Linked DNA regions of Homo sapiens: regions 2, 3, 4 and 5 are each linked to region 1. Evidence: fine-mapped expression QTL. A gene starts in region 1. Each other region holds a variant in brackets. All regions are shown on one strand. Distances are from middle to middle.

The links. PIP is the estimated chance that this variant, and not a neighbour inherited with it, causes the effect.
Region 2: its variant is the best candidate, but not a certain one, in a credible set for the expression of CHLSN in whole blood (TOPMed, PIP 0.74).
Region 3: its variant is the best candidate, but not a certain one, in a credible set for the expression of CHLSN in putamen (GTEx, PIP 0.64).
Region 4: its variant is the best candidate, but not a certain one, in a credible set for the expression of CHLSN in prefrontal cortex (GTEx, PIP 0.50).
Region 5: its variant is the best candidate, but not a certain one, in a credible set for the expression of CHLSN in caudate (GTEx, PIP 0.62).

Annotation. Positions count from the first base shown.
Region 1 is chr7:1,135,492-1,140,592 of GRCh38, reverse strand. CHLSN (cholesin) reads left to right here and starts at 2,346. Exons shown (of 5, transcript NM_001318252.2): 1 at 2,346-3,278. RefSeq lists silencers at 1,937-2,076, 2,277-2,726, 2,737-2,786 and an enhancer at 2,117-2,216.
Region 2 is chr7:1,030,046-1,035,146 of GRCh38, reverse strand. All of the region lies in intron 2 of CHLSN (cholesin), which reads left to right. Among named protein-coding and RNA genes, the nearest start is that of MIR339, 9.6 kb to the right of the region's middle. RefSeq lists silencers at 4,192-4,321, 4,382-4,481. The variant G/A (reference allele first, on the strand shown) is at 2,823.
Region 3 is chr7:1,598,451-1,603,551 of GRCh38, reverse strand. LOC105375123 (a long non-coding RNA gene) reads right to left here. Exons shown (of 8, transcript XR_001745048.2): 4 at 4,642-4,843; 5 at 1,385-3,126; 6 at 1,160-1,254; 7 at 44-271. Among named protein-coding and RNA genes, the nearest start is that of PSMG3-AS1, 31 kb to the right of the region's middle. The variant G/C (reference allele first, on the strand shown) is at 2,650.
Region 4 is chr7:996,097-1,001,197 of GRCh38, reverse strand. CHLSN (cholesin) reads left to right here. Exons shown (of 5, transcript NM_001318252.2): 4 at 647-728; 5 at 3,394-4,192. The coding sequence ends at 3,573. Among named protein-coding and RNA genes, the nearest start is that of CYP2W1, 15 kb to the right of the region's middle. RefSeq lists enhancers at 1,374-1,963, 3,420-3,960. The variant A/C (reference allele first, on the strand shown) is at 2,645.
Region 5 is chr7:1,002,761-1,007,861 of GRCh38, reverse strand. The region is part of intron 3 of CHLSN (cholesin); the gene reads left to right. LOC124901570 (a long non-coding RNA gene) reads right to left here and starts at 3,703. Exons shown (of 3, transcript XR_007060184.1): 1 at 3,450-3,703; 2 at 2,417-3,073; 3 at 1,791-2,074. The variant C/G (reference allele first, on the strand shown) is at 2,638.

The sequences.
Region 1 (5,101 bases):
ACTCACTACCAAGAGAACAGTATGGGGGAAACTGCCCCCATGATTCAATTATGTCCCACCAGGTCCCTCCCACAATGCATGGGAATTATGGGAGATACAATTCAAGATGAGATTTGGGTGGGGACACAGCCAAACCATATCAATTTCCAAAAATAAAAATGAAAAAAAATTATTTTCCTTTTTTCCTTTTTTTTTTTCACCCAGGCTGGAGTGCAGTGGTGTGATCATAGTTCACTGCAGCCTCCATCTTCCAGGCTCAAGCAATCCTTCCACCTCAGCCTCCTAAGTAGCTGGGACTATATGCGTGCACCACCACACCCAGCTAATTTTCTATTTTTATTTTTGTAGACATGAGGTCTTACTGTTTGCCCAGGCTGGTCTTGAACTCCTGGTGTCCATCCATCCTCCTGACTCAGCCTCCCAAAGAGCTGGGATTACAGGCCTGAGTCACTGCACCTGGCCATGATTCACTTTTTTTTTTTTTTTTTTTTTGAGCTGGAGTCTTGCTCTGTCGCCCAGGCTGGAGTGCAGTGGCGCGGTCTCAGCTCATTGCAACCTCTGCCTCCCGGGTTCAATAGGTTCTGATGCCTCAGCCTCCTGAGTAGCTGGGATTATAGGTACATGCCACCATGCCTGGCTAATTTTTGTATTTTTAGTAGAGATGGAGTTTTGCCACGTTGGCCAGGCTGGTGTTGAACTCCTGACTTCAAGTGATCCATCCACCTCAGCCTCCCAAAGTGCTGGGATTACAGGTGTGAGCCACCGCACCCGGCCGACTTCTAATGAACAGAATATGGCAAAAGCCTAGGGAAGTCACTTCTGAGATTAGGGTGCAAGGAGACTGTGATGTGCGTCTTGTGTGTGCCTCCTCTTGTGTGTGCTTGCACCGTCTAAGGCAAGCCAGCTGCAGTGTTGTGAGCTTCCTTGTGGTAAGGCCCATGTACCAAGGAACTGAGGGTGGCCTTTGGGCAGCAGCCAGCAAGGCTGAGGCCCTTCTCTAATGACCTTGGAGGACTGAGTCCTTACAATATCCGTGTGTGTGAGCTTGGGAGTGGATCATTCCAGATAAGCTTTCCGATGAAACCACAACCCTGGGGGGACACCTTGACCACAACTTGGTGAACCCTTGAGGCAAAGGCACAGAGCTTAGCCACGCCCACTTTCCTGACCGCGGATACCATGAAAAAATAAATGTTCTTTTAGGCTGCTAAATGTTGGGTTAATTTGTTATGCAGAAAAAGGAACCAAATACAATCTTCTACCAGTAAGGAAGAGTGCACCTTCTTTGCTTGTCACCTTTGGATTCCTGAGGCAACGTACATCATACTTGATACGGCTGCCAAGCACTTAACTTACTGGGTGACTTGAAAGCATGCTTTTTTTTCTTTTTTTTTTTTAGACGGGGTCTGGCTCTGTTGCCCAGGCTGGAGTGCAGTGCCTTGATCATAGCTCACTGCAGCCTCCATCTCCCAGGCTCCAGCGATCCTCCCACCTCAGCGTCCAGAGTATCAGGAACTACAGGCACGTGCCACCATACCCGGCTAATTTTTATTTTTTTAATTTATTTTTTATTTTTTAAAACAGAGTCTCATTCTGTCGCCCAGGCTGGAGTGCAGTGGCACGATCTCGGCTCACTGCAACCTCCACCTCCCGGGCTTAAACGATTTTCCTGCCTCAGCCTCCCGAGTAGCTGGGATTACAGGCACCTGCCACCACGCCTGGCTAATTTTTGTATTTTTAGCAGAGACGGGGTTACGGGGTTTCGTCATGTTGGCCAGGCGGGTCTCGAACTCCTGAGCTCAAGCGATCCGCCCGCCTGGGCCTCCCAAAATGCTGGGATCACAGGCGTGAGTCACCGCTCCCGGACACAAGCATTATTATAACACTACCCACCCTGTGTATTTTTTAGCACCTATCCTGATTTTTTAAATTCAGCACGAAGTTTAAGTCCTAGCCCTGTTGATCCCAATAGCCGTAGCTCATCCATTTCGACTCCGAGCCGAGCTCCATACCCTGGACCCTCGGCGGAGGCCCCACCCCGGGACGCCAGCCCGGCCGGGGCAGCTTGCACCCCAGACCCCCAAGCCCTGCGGGGCCCAAACCTAGTCATCTGCACTTGTTCTGGGCAGGGCGGGTTGCCTTGGCAACCAGCTCCTCTCCAAGCAACTCTAGGCCTCTAGAGATGGCGTCAGTAGCCCGCGCCCGGTCCTGGAACCGCCCCCCGTGCTGCCGCCGCTTGCCATTAGCCGGCGGAGAGACGGACGCAGACCTCGTCCAATGGGAGGCTCCGCACTCCTGAAGGCGGGACTAACGCTTACCTGGGGCGCGGGTCCCTGCCGGAAGGCGGCGTCCGCGACGCAGCTGTTCACGCTTAGGTGGGCGACGTGGGCGCAGGTGGGCGCAGGTAGGCGCGTGGGGCGGCGGCGGGGTGGCCGGCGGGTCAGGGCGCCAGGAGACCCAGAGCCCCGGGGCGGGCTCCCGCGGGGCTCCGCCCCCTCCACGTGGGTGCGCGGAGGCCCGGCGCGGCGCGACCGGGCGGCGGCCCTGGGGTCCGCGGTGCTGGGGAGGCTGGTGCGGCCGGTGCGGCCGGTGCGTCCCGGCGCGGGCTCCGACACCCGCACCCGCCTCTGGGTTAACTCAGCGCGGGCGAGTGGAAGGGACTCAGCTGGCTCCTAGGTTTCAGGCCGTCAGGGCTTGCAGTGGCTCTGGTTTCATTGTCTTTCTCTGAAGACGCCCTGATTGCCCTCCGAGGCTTTCAGCTCCCACTTTCTCTTTTTCAATTTTTGAGGCAGTGTCTCGCTGTGCCACCCAGGCTGGAGTGCAATGGCGTGATCATAGCTCACTGCAGCCTCCACCTCCTGGGCTCAAGCCGTCCTCCCGCCTCATCCTCCCAAGTAGCTGGGACCACATGCGCGCGCCACCACACCCGGATAATTTTTAAAAATGTTTTTTGTAGAAATGGGGTCTCACCATGTTACCCAGGCTGGTCTCGAATTCTTGGGCTCAAGCGATGGATCCTCCTGCCTCGGCCTCCCAAAGTGCTGGGATTACAGGAGTGAGCCAACGCGCTTGGCCTCACTTTCCATCATAAGCATGCTTTCCGTTTCCTTCCTTCCGTCATTCATTCATTCATTTTTAAAAAACGTTCATTGGGTTCCTCCTGCACTGTTCGGGGCATTGGGCTACAGCTGTCAACAAGTGGAGACAAGTCTGTGATCTAGTGAACTTCCATTCTGGAGGGGAGAGACAGATGAACAAGGTGCACAGAGCAGGTGATGGTAAGTGCCATGGAGAAGATGAGAACAGGGGTTTTGAGAATGGAAAGGAAGCAGGAGGAGGAGTGAGGCACCAGAACATTCCAGGTCGAGGAAACAGCAGGTGCAGGGGAAACAGCAGGGAGCCCAGTGTGGCTGCAGCCAATTTGGGAACAGAGAGAGAAAGAGGAGGTGAGTTCCCAGAGATGCGAGGAGGGGCCAGGGCAGTCGTGTGGACCTTACCAAGTGGCAAGGACCTTGACTTTCCCTCCAAGTGGAAGGGGACAGCTTGGGAAGTTTTTTGAGTGGAGGTGACACACCATCTGATTTAGGAGTTTAAAAGCCATCGTGAGAGGTGGTGGCTTGGACTGGGTACCTATGGGATCTTAAGGGAGTCACATTCTGGGTGTATTTCAGTGGTAAACCAACAGGAGTTTGTGGTGGGTTGGACGAGTATGTGAGAAAGAGAGGATTTATGGATGGACCAAGGTTTTAAGCTTGAGCTACTATGTGAACCTCATCAGATGGATGTTTATGGAGAGGATGAACACTAGGAAGCTCAGGTTTGTGGAGGGTGATCAGGGGTATTGATTACGAATTCTTAAGCTTGAGATGATATATGTGTAGATGATATATATAAGTACATATATATGGTTATATATATAGTTATATATATACACAGTTTATACACACATCCGCATATATATATTTATTTTTATATATTTATATATATTTATATATGTTTATATATGTTTATATATGTTTATGTTTATATGTTTATATATGTTTATATATGTTCATATATATGTTTATATATATTTATATATGTTTATATATATTTATATGTTTATATATGTTTATATATTTATATATGTTTATATATGTTTATATATATTTATATATATGTTTATATATATTTATATATATGTTTATATATATTTATATATATGTTTATATATTTATATATATTTATATATATGTTTATATATATTTATATGTTTATATATTTATATATTTATGTTTATATATATTTATATATGTTTATATATATTTATATATATTTTATATATTTATATATGTTTATATATATTTATATATATTTTATATATTTATATATGTTTATATATATTTATATATTTGTGTATATATTTATAATTATGTATATTTATACATATTTATGTATATATATTTATATATTTATGTATATATTTATATATATTTATGTATATATATTTATATACACATTTATATAAATTTATATATACTTATATTTATATATATTTATATATACTTATATATTTATACATATATTTATATATACATATATATTTTATATATATATTTATATATGCTTATATATTTATATATACTTATATATATTTATATATATTTATATATACTTATATATTTATATATACTTATATATATTTTTATATATACTTATATATTTATATATTCATATATATTTTTATATATTTATATAAATACATATTTATGTAAATATATTTATATATTTATTTTATATAAATAAATAAATAAATTGTGTATATATATATATATATATATTTCTTTTTGAGGTGGAGTCTCACTCTGTTGTCCAGGCTGGAGTGCAGTGGCGCGATCTCGGCTCACTGCAACCTCCACCTCGTATTCAAACGATTCTCCTGCCTCAGCCTCCCGAGTAGCTGGGTTTACAGGCAGGTGCCAGCACACCCAGCTAATTTTTGTGTTTTCAGTAAAGATGGGGTTTCACCATGTTAGCCAGGCTGGTCTCAAACTCCTGACCTCAAGTGATCTCCCCGCCTCGGCCTCCCAAAGTGCTGGGATTACAGGCGTGAGCCACCGTG
Region 2 (5,101 bases), 110 kb after region 1:
AGACATGACACCAGCCCATCACTGTTCACAATAGCAAAGACATGACACCAGCCCAGCACTGTTCACAGTCGCAAAGACATGACACCAGCTGAAATGCCACCAATGGCAGATTGGATGAAGAAAATGTGGTACATATACACCATGGAATACTATGCAGCCATTAAAAAGAGTGAGATCATGTCTTCTGGGAACATGGATGGAGCTGGAGGCCATTATCCTTAGCAAAGTAAGGCAGGAACAGAAAACCAAATACCACATGTTCTCACTATAAGTGGGAGCTGAATGATGAGAACTCATGAGCACAAAGAAGGGAACAACAGACACAGGAGTGAATTTGAGGGTGGAGGTGGGAGGAGGGAGGAGGAAAAGGAGGGTGGAGGGTGGGAGGAGGGAGAGAAGGTGAAAAATAACTACTGGGTACTAGGCTCAGTACCTGGGTGATTAAATAATCTATACAACAAACCCCCATGACACAAGTTTACCTGTATAACAAACCTGCACAGGCACCCCTAAACCTAAAATAAAATTTTGAAAAAATCACATTGCTAACATGGGGCACCTCCTGGGTTCACTGTTCTCTGTTCCTCTGTGTGTCTCCCACTGCCCGTGCTGCACCACAGCTGTCCGATGTCCCGAAATCAGGCATGCAGTTCCTTCTAGTCATCGTATTTCAGCGCTGTTTTAGCTATCCTTGTTACTTTGCTTTTCCATATACGTTTTAGAATAATCTTGTCTTTACCTACAAAAAAAAAAACCCTGAAATTTACGGTAGGAGTTGCATGAAACATGTACCTCAATTTTGGGAGAATTTATGTCTTGACTCTGCTGTCTGTTCTGTCCATTAACACAATGTGTCTCTCCATTTATTTGGATTCTTCAAAGTTTGTTTCTTCAGTGTTTTGTGGTTTTTAGCATTTAAGTCCCATACAGGTTTTGTTAAATTTACAGCTAAGCATTTCCTTGTTGCTGAGCAGTCGTAGGTGGTGGTAGCACGGGAATGCCAGTTTCCGCGAGCCCATTGCCAGCTCCCTGACTGTCTGCGGTCCCATGCCTTCTGAACCCACTCACAGTCCCAGGATTTATTTCGTAGATTCTCTGAGATTTCCTGCATCAACGGTCATGCCGCTTGCAAATACAGAGAGTTATATTTCTTCCTTTCTGGTCCTTTTCCTGCCTGTGGCCCCCGGCCAGCCTGATGCTGGATAGCAGTGGGGACAGTGGGAGGGTGGACACCCTTGCCCTGCTCCTGGCCTTGGAGGAGCACCTGCAGATGTGCCTCACCTCACTCAGGAGGCACCTCCATTACTGATTTCCTGGGTGTCTCCTCCCCTCACTCAGGAGGCACCCCCATTACCGATTTCCTGGGTGTCTCCTCACCTCACTCAGGAGGCACCCCCGTTACCGATTTCCTGGGTGTCTCCTCACCTCACTCAGGAGGCACCTCCGTTACCGATTTCCTGGGTGTTTACCACGCGTGGGTCTTGAACTTCGTCACATGCCCCCTGCATCAGTTGGTTTGACCACGTCGTATTTCTTCTGTAGCCTGTTGATAGGGTGCATTATATCGATGGTATTTTTTTTTTTTTTGAGACGGAGTTTCGCACTTATTGCCCAGGCTGGAGTGCAAATGGCGTGATCTCGGCTCACTGCAACCTCCACTTCCCAAGTTCAAATGATTCTCCTACCTCAGCTTCCTGAGCAGCTGGGATTACAGGCATAACCCACCACACCCGGCTAATTTTTGTGTTTTTAGTTGAGACGGGGTTTCTCCGTGTTGGTCAGGCTGGTCTTGAACTCCCGACCTCAGGTGATCCGCCCGCCTCAGCCTCCGAAAGTGCTGGGATCACAGGCGTGAGCCACTGCGCCCGGCCCAATGGATTTTTAAATAGTGAGCGAGCCTTCCACCTCTGGAGTGAACTCCACTTGTCATGCATGGTGTGTGACTCTTTTTCCATGTTGCTGAGTAGGATGTTTGCGTCTGTATTTATGAGGGATATTAGTCCGTAGTTTTGTTTTCATCTGGTTTGGGTATCAGGGTTCTACTAGCTTCACAGACCGAGCTGGGCTGTGTTCCCTCGTATCGAGGTAGTGGTAGGTCTTCTTTCAGTGTGTAACGGACTTGCCGAGACTGTCCGTGGCCTGGGTCCGCACCGCGAGTGCACAGAGGAGAGGCCCTCCAGCAACCTGGGGCTCACAGGTTTCCCAGAGAGGGGGTATCCGGGCAGGGTAGTGAGGAGCGTGCAGGATTGGTCAGGCAGACAGTGTGACTGGGCTGGAGGAAGGATGCTTGGGGCAGAGGCGCTGCCCACATACGTGCAGTACCCTAGCATCGTGCTTTCTGGCGACTCCGACCAGTGTTTTCTCTTGGGGACCTGCTGATTGGGTGGTTTTCCTGCCCCTGCCTGTCATGGACAGACTGGAGCAGCCCAAGGGCACCACTGTCACCTGAGGGTGCCTGGCGGTGTGGGCGGGTGGCTGCAGCCTCTGAGGGCCACTGTCACCTGGGGGTGCCTGGAGGTGTGGGCGGGTGGCTGCGGCCTCTGAGGGCCACTGTCACCTGGGGGTGCCTGGCGGTGTGGGCGGGTGGCTGCGGCCTCTGAGGGCCACTGTCACCTGGGGGTGCCTGGCGGTGTGGGCGGGTGGCTGCGGCCTCTGAGGGCCACTGTCACCTGGGGGTGCCTGGCGGTGTGGGTGGGTGGCTGTGGCCTCTTAGGGCCAGGGCCTCCACTTCTCAGGGCCTCCTGGCCCTCACACCTCCACAGTGGATTCTCGTGATGCCACGAAAGTGATTTGGCAGACAGGAGCCTCGCCGAGGCCTCCAC[G/A]GCACCTTCTCTGCTCTGGCCAACAGCAGATCCACCTGCGGGGGGCTTCATCCTCAGCCCCAGGTTCCATTTCAGAGACTTTATTTTCAGGCGGGCCGAGTGCGAGGGACGTGTTGGGGCAGCCCCGTGGGCCGGGAGCAGTTCTCTGGATCTGGGGCCCATCTACCCTGCATTCTCTGGGGCGTGGTGTGTCTGGGAAGTGGGGCCCACTGACCACCTGAGCAGGGCAGTTAATTAAAAGAATGCGTCAGACATAGTTATGTCTTTTTTGAATGACTCAGAATGTTCCACATGGTCTTGGGGTGCCTGGGCCCAGGTTTCGAAGGCGAATTCTCATTACCTGGGGAAGGTTTGGTGACCAGGTTGCTCTCACCCCCTCGGCACGTCCTCGCAGCCACCCCGCACTCTCGGCCCGTTCCCCGGGTGGTGTTTGCTGGCCGCCCCCCGCACCTGGACCACTCTGCCCTCCCTGCAGGTCTCTGCCGCCCCGGACCACTCTGCCCTCCCTGCAGGTCTCTGCCGCCCCGGACCACTCTGCCCTCCCTGCAGGTCTCTGCCGCCCCGGACCACTCTGCCCTCCCTGCAGGTCTCTGCCGCCCCGGACCACTCTGCCCTCCCTGCAGGTCTCTGCCCCCCCGGACCACTCTGCCCTCCCTGCAGGTCTCTGCCGCCCCGGACCACTCTGCCCTCCCTGCAGGTCTCTGCCGCCCCGGACCACTCTGCCCTCCCTGCAGGTCTCTGCCGCCCCGGACCACTCTGCCCTCCCTGCAGGTCTCTGCCGCCCCGGACCACTCTGCCCTCCCTGCAGGTCTCTGCCCCCCCGGACCACTCTGCCCTCCCTGCAGGTCTCTGGTCCCCCGGACCACTCTGCCCTCCCTGCAGGTCTCTGCCCCCCCGGACCACTCTGCCCTCCCTGCAGGTCTCTGCCCCCCCGGACCACTCTGCCCTCCCTGCAGGTCTCTGGTCTCTGCCCAGGAGCCGCCTGTGGTGCTGTTTCGCTGATTTCCTTCCTCCCCCAACCATTTTAAATCTCAGAAAAACAGCCTACCCTTAACTTTTCTCCTCAGTATTATTACAGCCTCAGCATAGCCTCTCAATGGGCACGCATCTTTGTCTTGTTCTGTCCAGATATGTAGCGTGTGGAACGGCATCCCGTGTACGGAAGCAGTTCACCAGCTATCTGGGGGCCCTTCCTTTCCTCTTGGCCCCTCCTCCTGACCAGGACCTGCCGACCTGCTGGGGGAGGGGGCTCTAGGGTCTCAGTGTGGACCACTGGCCACTGATGCTTCAAGCCAAGGCAGTGGGAGGGCTCCCTCCTGGCCACTCCACCCTTGAGACTGTACTAGGTACAAGGGGCCCTTAGCTCAGCCTGGGTGGATGCATGGACTGGTGCGTTTGTGGAGGTGGTTGGATGTGCCGGTGCAGTAAGCAGCCTTGCACCTGCTGCTCTGTGTTGGGGCCCGGGGTGTGGGCTGTGGGAAAGCAGGCATGGTGGCACCTGCCCAGAGAGAGCCCCACCTGCCCAGAGAGTCCCACCTGCCCGGGGAGAGAGAGAGAGTCCCCGCGTGCCCCGGGAGAGAGAGAGAGTCCCCCCCTGCCCCGGGAGAGAGAGAGTCCCCGCCTGCCTGGGGAGAGAGTCCCACCTGCCCAAAGCCACAAGCCTATGTGTGCCTTCATGGGTCTGGGGACAGCACAGCCCTACAGGTGGGTCACTGGGCAGGACCTAGGAAGGCATAGCAGCTGGTATGTGTCCACCTTTGCTGGGCTTGGTTCCCCCTCTGTGAAGTGCAAAGAGCAGGGTAGCTGGAAGCGTGAGATGGAGTGGAGTGAAGCCCCTGGGTCCTCAGCCGGCACCACGTCCCCATCCCTGTGGGGCTAGTGGCCCAGCCCGGGGGACTGCACCCCACTGCCAGGCCAGCTTCTCCCGCTCCTGCTCTTGTCCTTGTCTCCCAAAGCAGCCCAGAGCCACCAGCACAGAACTACGGGGAGAAGAAACCTGGTCCCCGGGCTCAGGTGTGGAGGCGGGTGGCTGTGCGAGTTGGTGCGTTGGTGAAGACGGCATATGAGCAGGATTGGCGCGTTTATGGAGGTGGGTGGATGCGTGGGTCGTTGCGTTCGGGAAGACAGGTGGATGCGCGGAGTTGGCGCGTTCATGGAGGCAGGTGACTGTGTGGGCTGGCGCATTCATGCTGGGGACACACTGGGGAGTCAGCACACAAGGCCACTGGGGCTCAGAAGGCCCAGAATTGAGTCCCTCCCATGAAACCGGTGACTGAGCA
Region 3 (5,101 bases), 460 kb before region 1:
AGAGGGTCTCGATGGAGAGAGTAAGACCAAAGAGACATCGCACCAGCCTCCCAGGGTTGCCGGAACAAACGCCACACACCAAGCGACGCCGGCCATGGGCATTCATCCCTCACAGTCCTGGAGGCTGAAGTCCGAGACCAAGGCGTGGGCAGGGCTGGTTCCTACTGAGGCCTGTCTCCTTGGTTTGCAGACGCTGTCTTCCTCCTGGGTCCTCACAGGGTCGTGCCTCTGTGTGTGTGTGTGTCCTGATCTCCTCTTCATATAAGAACACCTGTCAGATTGGATTAGGGCCCACCCCTATAACTTCACTGGACTTTTGTTTTTGAGACAGGGTCTTGCTCTGTCACCCAGGCTGGAGTGCAGTGGCACCATCACGGCTTACTGCAGTCTTGAATTCCTAGGCTCAAGCAATCCTCCCACCTCAGCCTCCCAAGCAACTGGGACCACGGGCGCAACAACATGCCCAGCTAATTTTTCTTTTTTTTTTCAGTAGAGATGAGGTCTTGCTATGCTGCCCAGGCTGGTCTCAAACTCCTGGGCTCCAGCGATTTTCCCACCATGGCCTCCCAAAGGGCTGGGATTACAGGCATCAGCCACTGTGACCACTGTTTTTTTGTTTTTTTCTTTTCTTGTAGAGATGGGGTCTTGCTCTGTCCAGCCCAGGCTGGTCTCGAACTCCTGGGCTCAAGTGATCCTCTCGCCTTGGCCTCCCCAAAATGTCTGGATCACAGGCGTGAGCTGCCACACCCAGTCTCCTCATTTTACTGTCACCCTCTCTTTCAAGGCCCGGGCTCCAAATACCATCCCATTCTGAGGCCCTGTGGGTTAAGACTTCAACATATGAATTTAGGGGGACAAAATTTAACCCATAACGGATGCCATCTGACCTCCAAGGCTGGGTCCTCAAAGCGAACACACTTGCCCCCGGAGCCCAGGTGCGGGGCCGCGGGGGTCCCAGGCCACGTGGACAGGAACCAGGGCCTCTGGTCCTCGGCGCTGGCTGAAATTCCAGCCGAGACCCAGACCCATTTTCCAGCAGCCCTATGAGGTGCGGACGCCATCATTCCCATTCCACAGAGGAGAAGACAGAGGCCCAGAGAGGACAGGTCGCTGGCACCTTCCAGAGAAGGGCACGTGGGGGATCTGAATACTCACACACCTTAACTGCCCTCGGTCCAAGCTCTTCATCATGATACTTCAGCCTGGGCCGTCATCCCTGATCCGAGGCTGCACCTGGAATGACCGAGGCCTCACCTGGAAGGCACGGCCCCAGCAGCCGGTAAACATCCTCAAGGAGCGGCGGGAAGCAAGGACAAAAGGCACCGAAATGGCACAGACAACAAGAGCCCCGGGCGACGGGCTCGGTCCTGCCTGGTCTGCTGACCTGCCCGCCTGGCGGTGAGAAGACTGGGACCCAGACAGAGGCCGGTGCGTCCGGGCTGACCCAGATGGCCCCACAGTGCGGAGGTGCATCCCGAGGACGTTGAAGAATCTTGGCACCGGGAGGGCTGAGGCTGGAGGAGGAGTTAAGTCCCAGGACCCCCACCCCGACGGGACCCTCCTGGGTCTGGTAGCAGGCGGGTGACACAGGGGGGCTCTGGGTGTGTGCCCACCCTGCTTCTCTTCATCTGCTTCTTACTTCACTCTTCCCTCCTGGCTGCCTCCCTGACCCCTTCTCTCCTTCTCCACTTTTTTTATTTTTTTTTTTAAGATGGAGTCTCCCTCTGTCTTGCTCTGTCATATGAGGAGACCGGGTGTGGCAACTCATGCCTGTGATCCAGACACTTTGGGAGGCCAAGGCGAGAGGATCACTTGAGCCCAGGAGTTCGAGACCAGCCTGGGCTGGACAGAGCAAGACCCCATCTCTACAAGAGAAGAAAAAACCAAAGAAACACTGGTCACAGTGGCTCTGTCACCCAGGCTGGAGTGCAGTGGCGCGATCTCAGTTCACTGCAGCCTCTGCCTCCCGGGTTTAAGCGATTCTCCTGTCTCAGCCTCCCAAGTAGCTAGGATTACAGGTGCCCACCACCACGCCTGGCTAAGTTTTGTATTTTTAGTAGAGACATGATTTCACTATATTGGCTAGGCTGGTCTCAAACTGCTGACCTCAGGTGATCTGCCCGCCTCAGCCTCCCAAAGTGGTGGGATCACAGGCGTGAGCCACCACACCCGGCCCCTTCTCTCCTTTCTCTGAAAACCAGACTTTAGATTTCCCACATCCGGTGGGAAATAAAGCTACCCCATGGCCACCAGCAGGGACAAACCCACTGTCCCCAATTCCCCCAAATAACTGAGAAAGAGGATCTGACTGTTTCAGCTTCAGCCCTGGTGTACGGGGCAAGTTTTCCCTGGGTAGCAGCTGAGCCCCACCCTGGACTGGCAGGTTCATCCTAAAACCGCCAGCTCCCAACACCGCCAACTCCATTGCACCCACCGGATTTAACCCCCTGCGGGCTGCTTCTCCTGCCCTATCCCCCACAGCGCTGGCCACAGCACCCCACAAACAGAGCCTGCTCCCCGACACCCAGGCGGGATGACAGGTACCTCAGAAGCTCTGCATGAACGTGACCTTCCCCGCCTTGCTGGGTACAGCACCCAGAAGTGGAAAAGTGATAGGAATCTTGGCTGGTCCACCAGGAAAAGGAACAT[G/C]GTGTTGGTCCCAAGGCCTCCACTTTAGAGACACTGGAAAACCAGACCATTCCCAGGGACCAAGGTGGGCTGGACCCAGACATCAGCACACATATGCGTGCTTAAGGAATCAGAGGTGGTCAGCAGCAGATGAGAGAGCCACTTCCTTGAGGACAAGGAACGGGCATTATTTTGTGTGTCTTCAGAGGGCAGAACAGAATCAGCAAAAGCAGATTTGACCAAACCCAACCAACATTAGACTTTGCCACTCCTAGAGGTAGTGAGCTCTCTGTCACTGGAGGTATTCAAACAGAGACAGGACAGCTATGGGTCAGGGACATCGCACAAGGTGAGTGTTTGGCCTTCAGGCTCCCTCGGGTTCTTCTCTGATTGCTGCCATCCTGGGCTGGCTCTAGGGAGAGAGCGTGCAGTCCTCTCTGTCTAAAAATGAACTCTTGCTTCTCATCATTTCTGTCATGTTGCGCCCGACAGTAACAGCTGTTAAGAAATCACATTTGTACCTTTTCAGGAGCTCTCTTGAACTTGGAGTGCAAATTAACTTCATGTGATCTGAAATATAAAAGGTCGCTTCTCCCACAAATTAAAAATCCAGGAGATGCTTGCCAAGCTCACGAGCAGATCAGGTTCTGCGGGGACGTGAGCCACGGAGGACTCGGCGGCCACCCCGCTGCCCTATGCACGGGGACGGCTCCTGCTGCCCTCGCTCAAGGCCATCCACTCTGGTCACAATGTCCCCAGCTGCGGCCTCTTCGACCTTCTCCGCCAGCATTCAGGGGGATTCTGTCCTCCATTTGAGCTCTCTGGGCTTCCAAACACCCTGAACACCCAGGACCCTGAGGGGCTTGTCTTCCTGGCTTCCTGCCAGAGACCCTCATGTCGCAAACAGGCGGGCATCGCCCAGGGCCTCCACTCTCCCCCGCCTCACCAGGGAGGCCCTGCCAGGCCCTGTTCTCCCCAGTCACAGGCGTCCCAGCACCCAGCCCCTCGGACCACAGCCCCGAAGGTGCGGGAAGCTCTGGCTTCTCCCTGTTCCTGCCCCATAACTCCCTGCTGATAGTCCCAGCCACCAGGACCGGGCTCCCCGCTCCTGTACCTCCTCCCAGTTCTCTCGGGTCCACACTGGTCACAAGTCCCACACATCTGGGGTGTTGTCACCCGGGCCTGGCCCTGGGGAAGCTAAATGGGAGCTGAAGTCGTTGACAAGGACACAGCCCAGAGAGGCCAAGTGACTTCCGCATGGCTGCACAGCCCCTTCGAGGCCTCGCCTGCTGGGAGCCACCTCTCCTCGGACCCCACACAGCCTCAAGCACCACCGCAGCTGAGCCTCTGAATCCCAGTTCCAGAGTGACCTCCCCACCAAGTCTGGTTCTCCAAAACCCTCCCACTGTCGCTCCAGGGATGGGCTGGGCCTCACAACAGCCACCCCTCCTACCCGCCTGATCAGCATTTTCAGAAGCCCACGCCCACAGATGCTGCCTCCCACCACCCCGCCCACCCATGGAACCCCACAGACCTTGCTCCCACCACAAACTGTGGCCATCACAGGTGGGGTGGTGTCCACCAGAGCCCCTCTCTGGGGTTCTGCATCAGCACAGCCCCACCCCCCACCCTTTCTCCTGTGCAAGACCCTTGGCCTGGGAATTCCACTCAGCCCAGGACACTCCTGTCTTGCTGCCAACCAGAAGTCTGACCCGCCTGGCAGGGCAGCCCACCCCCTGCACACCTGCCAGGTCAGGCTCAGCCTGGAGGGCTCCAACCTGGCCCAGTCACGCCCCCGGGGGCCTGCGCACCACTGGCCTTCTGAGTCTCTGAAGGCTGCACACCCCGTCCACACACCTGTGCACACACATGTCTATTCACTGTGTCCCCACCCAAATCTCATTTTGAGCTGTAGTTCCCCACCCAAATCTCAGTTTGAGCTGTAGTTCCCATAATCCCTACGTACCATGGGAGGGACCCAGTGGGAGGTAATTGAATCATGGGGGCGATTACCTGCATGCTGTTCTCGTGATAGTGAGTGAGTTCTCAAGTGATCTGATAGTCTGATAGTTTTCCCTGCTTCACGCTGCACTTCTGCACTTCTCCTTGCTGCTGCCATGTGAAGAAGGACGTGTTTGCTTCCCCTTCCGCCATGACTGTAGTTTTCTGAGGCCTCCCCAGCCATGCTGAACTGTGAGCCAGTTAAACTTCTTTCCTTTATAAATGACCCAGTATTGGGTATGTCTTTATCAGCAGCATGAGAACAAACTAATACACCTGTCCACACACACCTGTGCACATGCCTGTCCACACACACACACCTGTCCACACCCCTGTGCACACGTCTGTCCACATATTTGTCCACACACCTGTGCACCTGCTGCCTCCCTCTGACACATCTTCCCTCTGCAGCCGACACCCACTGAGCCTGCCCTGGCCAGTCCTGCAGAAGGCCAGCAGCCCGGCTACCCAC
Region 4 (5,101 bases), 140 kb after region 1:
GCCTGGCCCTGGAAACACGTATCTGGGAGGAGGTCTCTGGAGTAAACCCTGCCTGGCCCTGCCCTACCCACAGCGCCAGCTTCGCTCCATCCGCAGCTGCCTGATGTCCACAGGCCCTAGTGCAGGAGCGGGACGGGGGCGGGGTGGTTGTGGCCCTGGGGAGCGGCCCCTCTAGCAGCCGGGAGCTGCTCGTCCCCAGGCCCACTGGCCCCTTGTTGTGAGGGCCTGGGACTCAGGGTATTGTTCCTTACAGTCTTCCCATTTTCATGTAGAAAATACATCATCAATTACATCGCTCCCTTTCCTCCCAGAGAAACTCACTTCATCCTTCCCCCCCTGTAAAATCCGTGTGACCCATGGGGTGGGGGAGCCCACGGGGACTTGGGGTCAGTGGTGAGCCCCGGGGTGGCCAAGGTAAGAGTGGCGTCCACATGCTTCCTGGTCAGGCGGCAGCAGGGCGTGGGGTTGCGGCTCCTCGCCTCGGGCAGGGGAGGGGCTCCAAAAACCCTCTTCACATGAGGCCTTGGTGTGTAGTACCTGGTGGGGCTCCCTCTCCTAAGATGAGGCGTCCCCGATCTCTCAGGGCAGACAGCTGCCCGGGAGTCTTTTGCCCAGCACCCTGAGATGTTTGTCTTTCTTTCCCTAGATGGGCCCAAAAGCACAAGAACTGGAGGTTTCAGAAGACGAGGCAGACGTGGCTCCTGCTGCACATGTATGACAGTGACAAGGTGTGTGCACGGCGGGGCAGGCACGTCTCCTGGGGGCTGAGGTCTGTGCACGGCGGGGCAGGCACGTCCCCCCGGGGGCTGAGGTGTGTGCACGGCGGGGCAGGCACGTCTCCCGGGGGCTGAGGTGTGTGCACGGCGGGGCAGGCACGTCTCCCGGGGGCTGAGGTCTGTGCACGGCGGGGCAGGCACGTCTCCTGGGGGCTGAGGTCTGTGCACGGCGGGGCAGGCACGTCTCCTGTGCACACTGGGGCCCTGACAGCAGAAGCCACAGTCTGAAGGGGCCGCCCTCAGGGCCCCACTGCAGGGCAGGTCTCCCGGTGCCTTTGTTCTAAGAGATGAGCAGCGTTGCCTCCTCCAGGAGCCCTGCCGCCGGCCTTCAGGGCAGAAACCAACACGGGGTAACCTTAGGGAGGCCACCTGCACGTGTGCGTGTGACGTGTGTCTACACGTGCGTGTGTGCATGACGTGTGTCTACACGTGTGTGCGCGTGATGTGTGTCTACACATGTACGTGTGGGCAGCTGCCCTTTTCAGGGGCAGGATGTGAGATAGAGTTTCACAGGATGAAACGAGACAGAATTCTGAACTAAACCCGGCTGCTGGGCGGCGGGCTGGAGCTGCCCATGTCCTGTGAGGCTGGAGGAGCCCACGGTTCTGCTGAGCTGCATCCGGTGGGCAGTGCCTCCTGCCTCGCTGGCTCTCCTGCGCCCACGTTACTAGAGGCCAGGCTTTGCGTGCGCGCTGGGGGCAGGGGGCGGTTTTCTCCTGCCGTGCCTGTGTTTGCAGACTCTCAGAGCGGGGCAGGCCCACCAGCCCCACTCACAGCCCTGGGACATTCCAGGCATAGCCTGCAGCCACTTGCTTTCATTATTTTGTTGTTTTTGTTTTTTTGTGGGCGTTTTTTGAGACAGGGCCCCGCCCAGGCTGGAGTGCAGTGACACGACCACAGTTCACTGCAGCCTCGACCTCCTGGGCTCAAGCCACTCTCCCTCCTCAGAGTTAGAGGACATACACATTGCAAGCCCTATTGCAAGCCGATTGTAAGCCCTATTGCAAGCTCCGGTAATCGCGACACTGGGGCAGGCACAAGGGTGGAAGTAGAATTGACTGGAACAGCCTGGGAAGCCTGGAAACCCTCACGCCCGGCGCAGCTGATTCCAGCATGCGGGCCAAGCCTGTTCCATGTGGAGGAAACCTCTTCTTAACAGAGCCAGGGACAACTGGGTTTCCACGTTTTGTTTTGTTTTAACCAAAGTTTACGTGGTTTTATTTATATGTTACTATTACCAAAAGTAAACTTTATACAAAACTTTTTATACAGAAAAATAATCCTTGGTTAGGCAAATCCTTGGTTAGCCATTTATATGTGTGTATACACACACACACACACGCAAAGTTATCTTACACTATTGTAATTAAACATATTTACAAACACACAAATGTGCATTTTACTTATACATTTTTATTTCATATGTAACCGTACATATTTACGAACATGCCGATACTTAATGCACGCAGCCCCCAGCTTCAAACCATATGCAAAAATTAACTCAAAATGGATCAGAGACTTAAATTTAAAAGCTAAAACCAAAACTCTTAGATGAAAGCCTAAGAGTCCATTTCGTGCCCTTGGGTGAGGCAACAGTTTCTTAAATGTGACTCTAGAAGCACAAGCGACAAAGGAAAAAGTCGAGAAAGTGCCTTCATCAGGATCTAAGACTGTGTAGCCGGGCGTGGTGGCTCACGCCTGTAATCCCAGCACTTTGGGAGTCTGAGGCGGGTGGATCACTTGAGGTCAAGAGTTCGAGACCAGCCTGGCCAACATGGCAAAAACCCCGTCTCTACTAAAAATACAAAAATTAGCTAGGTGTGGTAATGCTTGCCTATAATCCCAGCTACTTGGGAGGCTGAGGCAGG[A/C]GAATTACTTGAACCTGGGAGGTGGAGATCGTGCCACTGCACTGCAGCCTGGACAACAGAGCAAGACCGGCTCAAAAAAAAAAAAAAAAAAAAAAAGAATCTAAGACTTTGCACTGCATACAGAACTAGCTGGAAAGTGAAATGGTTGCTACAGAATGGGAGACGTTTGCAAGTCCCACATGGAATTAGAACTCTGCTAACTCAATAATAAAAAGAGCCCAGTGTTGAAAGCCGCTGCCACAGGGACCTGAGGAAACGTGCCTGCAGAGCAGATTGTCAGGTGACTGGTGAGCCTGTGCAGAGGTGCCCCCACCACCAGCAGACAAGGGTCAGGCCACCAAGAGATGCCACCTGGCCACTGCCGCCCTGAGCAGAAAGGCGAGCGTGCCAAGTGCCGGCGCGTACTTGGCTTTTTGTTCTGAATGCACCTTTCATCACCGCCTACCCCTGTTTAATTTGTGTCGTATTTTCTCGTTTTTCTGAGGATTTTTACGATGTTTGTGAAATGTTCTCCCCACATGGCTTCTGTTTTACCCAGGTTAATTGAGTGTTTTGTCTGCCTCTAAACAGGCATTTCTTCTTCCAGTGTCTGGGGCAGGGTCTGTGGCCAGGCCGCCCACACCCTCGGGCCGCAGTGGGAGGACGGAAGCCTGAGGCCCGGGTGTCCTTGGCTGCAGCGTCTTGTCTCCTGCTGTTCAGCGGCCCCTCCCTGCCCCGCCCCTGACCAACTCGATCTCTTTCCCGTCCAGGTTCCCGATGAGCACTTCTCCACCCTGCTGGCCTACCTGGAGGGGCTGCAGGGCCGGGCCCGAGAGCTGACGGTGCAGAAGGCGGAAGCCCTGATGCGGGAGCTGGATGAGGAGGGCTCTGATCCCCCCCTGCCGGGGAGGGCCCAGCGCATCCGACAGGTGCTGCAGCTGCTCTCCTAGTGGGTTCAGCGCGGGGCGGGGCCGCTGCCCAGTGCAGGGCTGCCTCAGACCACACAGGGTGCAGCTCCTCCGGCGGTGGGGGCCGGGTTCACCAGCAGGGCAGCGGCTGAGCAAGGGCTTTCAGCTCCTCCGGTGGTGGGGGCCGGGATCACCAGCACCAGAGCCTCGCAAGGGCCCCTTCCCTCCTCCAGACCCTCCTTGGCCGGTGACGGCTGTGACAGTGATGGCAGGTTCAGTGCCTTCAGCGCAGAGCGTGGATGCTCTGGAATCACCCGGACCCCTGGCCTTGGAGGGACCCTCCAGCCCCAGGAATCTGCTTTGGAGGGAAATGTCTATTTTTCTACCGGGAATATTTTAGAGATTGGGGCATGCTGGCTCCTCCCGCCAGCTGCAAACCTGCACCTTCCGCCTGATTCCCGATCCCCCTGCGTGGGCCGCATTCCTGGTCCCCTGCCTGCGTCCATCGAGGGGCCTGGCTGTGGCCTGTTTTCCTTTGACCCCACACAGCGTCATTGCGGGTCATGGGGAGCCCCTGGTGGGAGCTTGTGGAGTCGGATCACGTACCTGTGCAGAAACCGCCTCTGTGGCTGCATTTGAAATAAAACCCGACCCAGCAGCAGCCGTGGGTCCTGCTCTGTGCGGTGCGTCCCCTGCCTGTGGACTGCGGAATTCGTGTCCCCCATGCCAGCGCACGCCAGGCTGAGACCCCGCCCTTGGTGGCCACCCCAGGATGGCATTGGGGGCGCTCTGTGTGTGGCGTTCCTGGCAGTGGGTGCTGGCTGATCGCTTGCGTTCAGGCCGGCCGTTTCCCAGCGCTGGCAGTGACTGACCCTGCCAGGAAACACACTTAGGCCGCACAGAATCAAGCCACACACTTCCTGTTCCCAGCAGCACGTGGTCCCTGCCCCCAAGTGATGTGAGGTGCCGCGGGGCACCGGGAAGGCCGTGGTGACCGCAGAGCTCTGGGCAGCTGCCGGGGAGGGCCGGGTGGCCATGGCGAGGAGGTCCGTGCCCCACTGTGAGGCCAAGTCTGTTCCAGGATGGGCCCCGGGGAGGGCTGAGGCCAGTGGCTCCGGTCTGGGCCTCCACAGAGCAGACACCCAGGTGCTGCTGCCCCGGGGCCGCCTCCTGCCCAGCCCAGGTTGGGGGTTTGTGCTGCCGTCTCAGTGCTCCCCCAACTGACGGTGGAGCAGAAAAGTAGCTGCAGCCGCCACCTGGCAGCCTTGGGACGCTGGCTCAGGCCCTGAGTGCCCCCTTGGGTGCCCCGCCCCCCAACAGAGCTCCTGAGGCTGAGGTCAGGCTGCCTGCCTTGGCTGCCACCAACGCACAGAGCTGCATGCAAGCCGGGAGGCGGGAGCACGGCCGGCCTCACCCTGTGAGAGCAGAGTCACAGGCTCCGGGCTGTTGTTGTGGGGAGGGCCTGGGGCTTCCCGTGGCCACTGCTGGCCTGGCTGGGCCTCCTCAGCCGTGGCCCTCGGGGCCTGCACCTCAGAGCGGTGACTGGCCTCACTGTGACCCACGGACGTCT
Region 5 (5,101 bases), 130 kb after region 1:
CCACGGGAAGGTCCTGAGTGCCTGGGAGCATGCCCTGCTCCTGTCCTCAGCCTCACCCTCCTCTCCCCCTCTGGGACCTTCCCGTGGCCCCCTCATGCTACTCGCAACCCCCCAGCGGCAAGTCCTGTGCGGAGGCACTGTGTCCTGCGTGTGGGAGGAGGGGGGACTCTTACTTCTCAGAAACAAAGCAGCCCCTTCCCACAGGAGCTTCTTCCAAGGCCTGGGATCCACACACCAGGAGGCCAGCCACAGACACGGGCACCCCGGCAGGAGCTTCTCCTCTTTCCTGGGGGTCTCCAAGGGTGCCCGCAAGCCCAGCCGCATCTGGCTGCCAGATCAGAGCCCACGTGGATGTGTGGAGCCCACGGTATCCCTGGCAACTCAGGGTTTTCCAAAGAGAGGGAGCCCGGGGATTCCCACAGGGGAGTGTCCTCAGCCTGGGGGCTGCTGGGGACCACTGGCCACGCCACGGCTGGCCCACCACAGAGCCCCCAGCCCAGGGGCAGCGGTGAAGGTAGGTGCCCGAGTTGTCCTCCCCCTGCAGAGGCCCTGGACTGGGACTCAGGAAGGACATGCTGGCCGCCGTGGCCCATGGCCATCTTATGGGCTTTCCACGAGGGGTTCCTCCTGGAGGCAAAGCCATCTGCAGCCAGGTGGGCTGTGTGTGGAGGAGACCCCGGATTGTTCTGGTGAGCCCTCATGGTGGAGAGTTTCCTCTCATCTCTCTGGGAGGCACCCCACCCATTCCAGGATGCCCTGGGGGTCTCCCCTCCAGATCCCCCGAAGGCTCTGCCCCCAAGACACGTCGACCCAGCGCCCGTGGGGTCTTCATGCCCCGTCCCTAGAACCCGGGTCGCAGGCTGGGCAGCATCCCCACACGGTGACCTTGGCCTGTGACCTGTGACCATACCCTGGGCTGTTCTTGCATCTCAAGGGTTCATCTTCTCTGCAGCCTTCCTGGGGTGCTCCTGGCTTTGTGTGAAGCTGGGGCTGGTGGGAGCTGTGCAGCAGGGCTGGGGAGAGGAGGGTCCAGAGGGTGGGATGGGGGATTGTGGCCGTCATGCGCTCTTTCCCTGCGCTGTGGCCGTCGTGTGCTCTTTCCCTGCAATGTGGCCATCGTGCGCTCTTTGTCTGCGCTGTGACCGTCATGCGCTCTTTCCCTGCAGTATGACCGTCGTGCGCTCTTTCCCCGCGCTGTGGCCGTCGTGCGCTCTTTCCCCGCGCTGTGGCCGTCGTGCGCTCTTTCCCCGCGCTGTGGCCGTCGTGCGCTCTTTCCCTGCGCTGTGGCCGTCGTGCGCTCTTTCCCTGCGCTGTGGCCGTCGTGTGCTCTTTCCCTGCAGTATGGCCGTCGTGCGCTCTTTCCCTGCGCTGTGGCCGTCGTGTGCTCTTTCCCTGCGCTGTGGCCGTCGTGTGCTCTTTCCCTGCGCTGTGGCCGTCGTGCGCTCTTTCCCTGCAGTATGGCCGTCGTGCGCTCTTTCCCTGCGCTGTGGCTGTCGTGCGCTCTTTCCCTGTGCTGTGACCGTCGTGTGCTCTTTCCCTGCACTGTGGCCGTCGTGTGCTCTTTCCCTGTGCTGTGACTGTCCCCTCGTTTTCCCAGCAGGGGCCCCAGGCTTGGTCACCCAGCTCTGTTTTTCCAGCTCAGAGCCGTGTTGCTCTGGCCTTGCATAGGCGGAAGTTTGGGAGTGCTGGAAGCAGTCCCTCCACTTTCTGTGGGTCTCTGGGTTGCTGGGTCCACTGTGGTAGTTACACGAGCGAGGCACACGGCTGTCAGCGGGCAAGCCTGTTCCTCATTAAAGAGAAAAAAGAGTTTATTTATATGCTTAACGCAGGAAATTGAAGATTTACTTTCCATATAACTGAAAAAAGAAAAGAACACGCCTGCTGGGTGTTCACGTTGGGGGCAGGTGGCGAGGTGACCGCTGCCTCCCTGGTCCCTGCAGGCTTTAGCTCACCATTTTCGGGGGCCGGCCCCCTGCCTGGGTCTGCTCGAGGCGGGAGGTGGTGCCCCCACAGGAGAGAGAGGAACTGGGACCCGGGCCACACGGATCCAGCCGGGACGGGGTCCCCCACTCACCTGCGGGAGGACGAGAGCAAGTCACTCCTGCCGTGGGGCAGCCCAAGCCCACCCTCCTCAGGTCCCCATGTTGCCCAGCACAGCATGGTGTCTTAGCTTCCTTGCACCCCGTGGCCTCCGGGCCTGGAACCCTGGAATGACAGGCCAGAGCAGAGGCCAAACTGTCCCATCAGCGGAGCTTAGGGGACACTTCTTGGGTGTCCTTCCCTACCCAGGCCCACTGCCCCGCTGCCGAGGGACAGCCCAGCTCCAAGTATGGGAGGAGCGGCCAACCCATGAGACCCGGCCCCTGTCCGCGCCAGCCCCGCTCGGGCCTTCATGGGCATTGGGTCGTCAGCTCACCGCGGCTGGCAGTTCCTGGTGCAGTTACGAGCACGTGGACGCTGTGGCTGCGGGCCGGCTTCAGATGCTGTCTCAATAGAGACCCTCGCTCAGTTTTCTTTTGGAAGGGGGTTCAGCAAGAAGTCCCCGCTTTTTGTGGGTTGATTTGTTTGTTTTGAGATGGAGTCTCACTCTGTCGCCAGGCTGGAGTGCAGTGGTGCAATCTCGGCTCACTGCAACCT[C/G]TGCTTCCCAGGTTCAAGCGATTCTCCTGCCTCAGCCTCCTGAGTAGCTGAGATTACAGGCATCCGACACCACGCCCGGCTAATTTTTTGTATTTTTAGTAGAGACAGGGTTTCACCGTATTAACCAAGATGGTCTTAGTCTCCTGACCTTGTGATCCGCCCTCGGCCTCCCAAAGTGCTCAGCTTACAGGCATGAGCCACTGTTCCCAGCCGCCCCTGCTTTTTTTTAAAGCCCAGTAGGCTAGCAGGGACTCTGGTTCTCCACCCAGCTGGTGAGTACCACAGGGGAGGAGGTTCTTCTCTCTGGGACGCTCTAGGCAGCTCTGGACAGATGACCCTGCAGTGGCCGTGGCCCCCGCTATGCTGGGGACAAGGGACTTCCCTCTGACTGCTCTCTTTCCTTTTCCAAGATGGGATCTCCTGTCTGCTGCCCCACCTAGGCAGAGAGAAAGAGGATTGTGTCAGGCATCCTGTGAACTGTCTGCAGTTGCGCAGGGACCAGTCCCCAGGGTGGGTGGCAGAGGCGGCCATCACTCAGGAGGCCTCGCCCAGTGCCGTGGGAGCCACAGGCGACACTGAGCACCCCACCCGCCCCTCGCTGTGTCTGCTCCCCCAGTGACGAGGCCAAGAGCGGGACGGCTCATCTTCGGTGGTGAGGGAGATGGGCTTGGCTTGAAGTCTGCCTGGTGGGGGCTCGGTGAGAGAGAGGCGCCCTTGGTTCAGGGCCGTAGGCAGCAGTGCCGTGGGCCAGCAGTGCTGTGGCCTCGGGCCCCATGGGAGGGCAGTGTGCAGAGCAGCTGTGACTGACTCACCGTGCGTGGGCTCTGGGAACACCCGTGAAGTGGGGTCACCACTCCACGTTCCCAAGGAGGAAACAGGCTGGTGGAAAGCAGCAGCTCAAGGTGGGAGAGTTAGAAAGTGGCAGAGCTGAGATGCCAACTTCTGCCCTGCAGCAGTAAAACAGCCCCCAGCAGGCAGATGCCATGGCCTGGCTGGCCCGGGTGCACCTCACAGGGGCCCACGCTGGCCGGGTCGGCCATCCGGGGAGCAGACGACGAGGGGCTGTCTAAAAAGAAAGGAACTAAAATTAAACCTCCCTGGAGGCCCCTCTCATCACGCAGGAGCCCTGCGTCACTGCACATGGGGCTGGCGTGTCACCTAGCAGCTGCACAGCTGGGCTCCACACCCGCAGGACTCCCCACCCGCAGGACTCCACTCACCCACAGGACTCCCCACCCACAGGACTCCACTCACCCACAGGACTCCACTCACCCACAGGACTCCCCACCCACAGGACTCCACTCACCCACAGGACTCCACTCACCCACAGGACTCCCCACCCACAGGACTCCAAACCCACAGGACTCCACTCACCCACAGGACTCCACTCACCCACAGGACTCCCCACCCACAGGACTCCAAACCCACAGGACTCCACTCACCCAAGGACTCCCCACCCACAGGACTCCACTCACCCACAGGACTCCACTCACCCACAGGACTCCCCACCCGCAGGACTCCACTCACCCACAGGACTCCCCACCCACAGGACTCTACTCACCCACAGGACTCCCCACCCGCAGGACTCCACTCACCCACAGGACTCCCCACCCGCAGGACTCCACTCACCCACAGGACTCCCCACCCACAGGACTCCCCACCCACAGGACTCCACTCACCCACAGGACTCCACTCACCCAAGGACTCCCCACCCACAGGACTCCCCACCCACAGGACTCCACTCACCCACAGGACTCCACTCACCCGCAGGACTCCCCACCCGCAGGACTCCACTCACCCACAGGACTCCCCACCCACAGGACTCCACTCACCCACAGGACTCCACTCACCCACAGGACTCCCCACCCACAGGACTCCCCACCCACAGGACTCCACTCACCCACAGGACTCCACTCACCCACAGGACTCCACTCACCCGCAGGACTCCACTCACCCGCAGGACTCCACTCACCCACAGGACTCCCCACCCACAGGACTCCACTCACCCACAGGACTCCACTCACCCACAGGACTCCCCACCCGCAGGACTCCACTCACCCACAGGACTCCCCACCCACAGGACTCCACTCACCCACAGGACTCCCCACCCACAGGACTCCACTCACCCACAGGACTCCACTCACCCACAGGACTCCCCACCCGCAGGACTCCACTCACCCACAGGACTCCCCACCCGCAGGACTCCACTCACCCACAGGACTCCCCACCCACAGGACTCCACTCACCCACAGGACTCCACTCACCCACAGGACTCCACTCACCCACAGGACTCCCTACCCACAGGACTCCAAACCCACAGGACTCCACTCACCCAAGGACTCCCCACCCACAGGACTCCACTCACCCACAGGACTCCCCACCCGCAGGACTCCACTCACCCACAGGACTCCCCACCCACAGGACTCCACTCACCCACAGGACTCCACTCACCCAAGGACTCCCC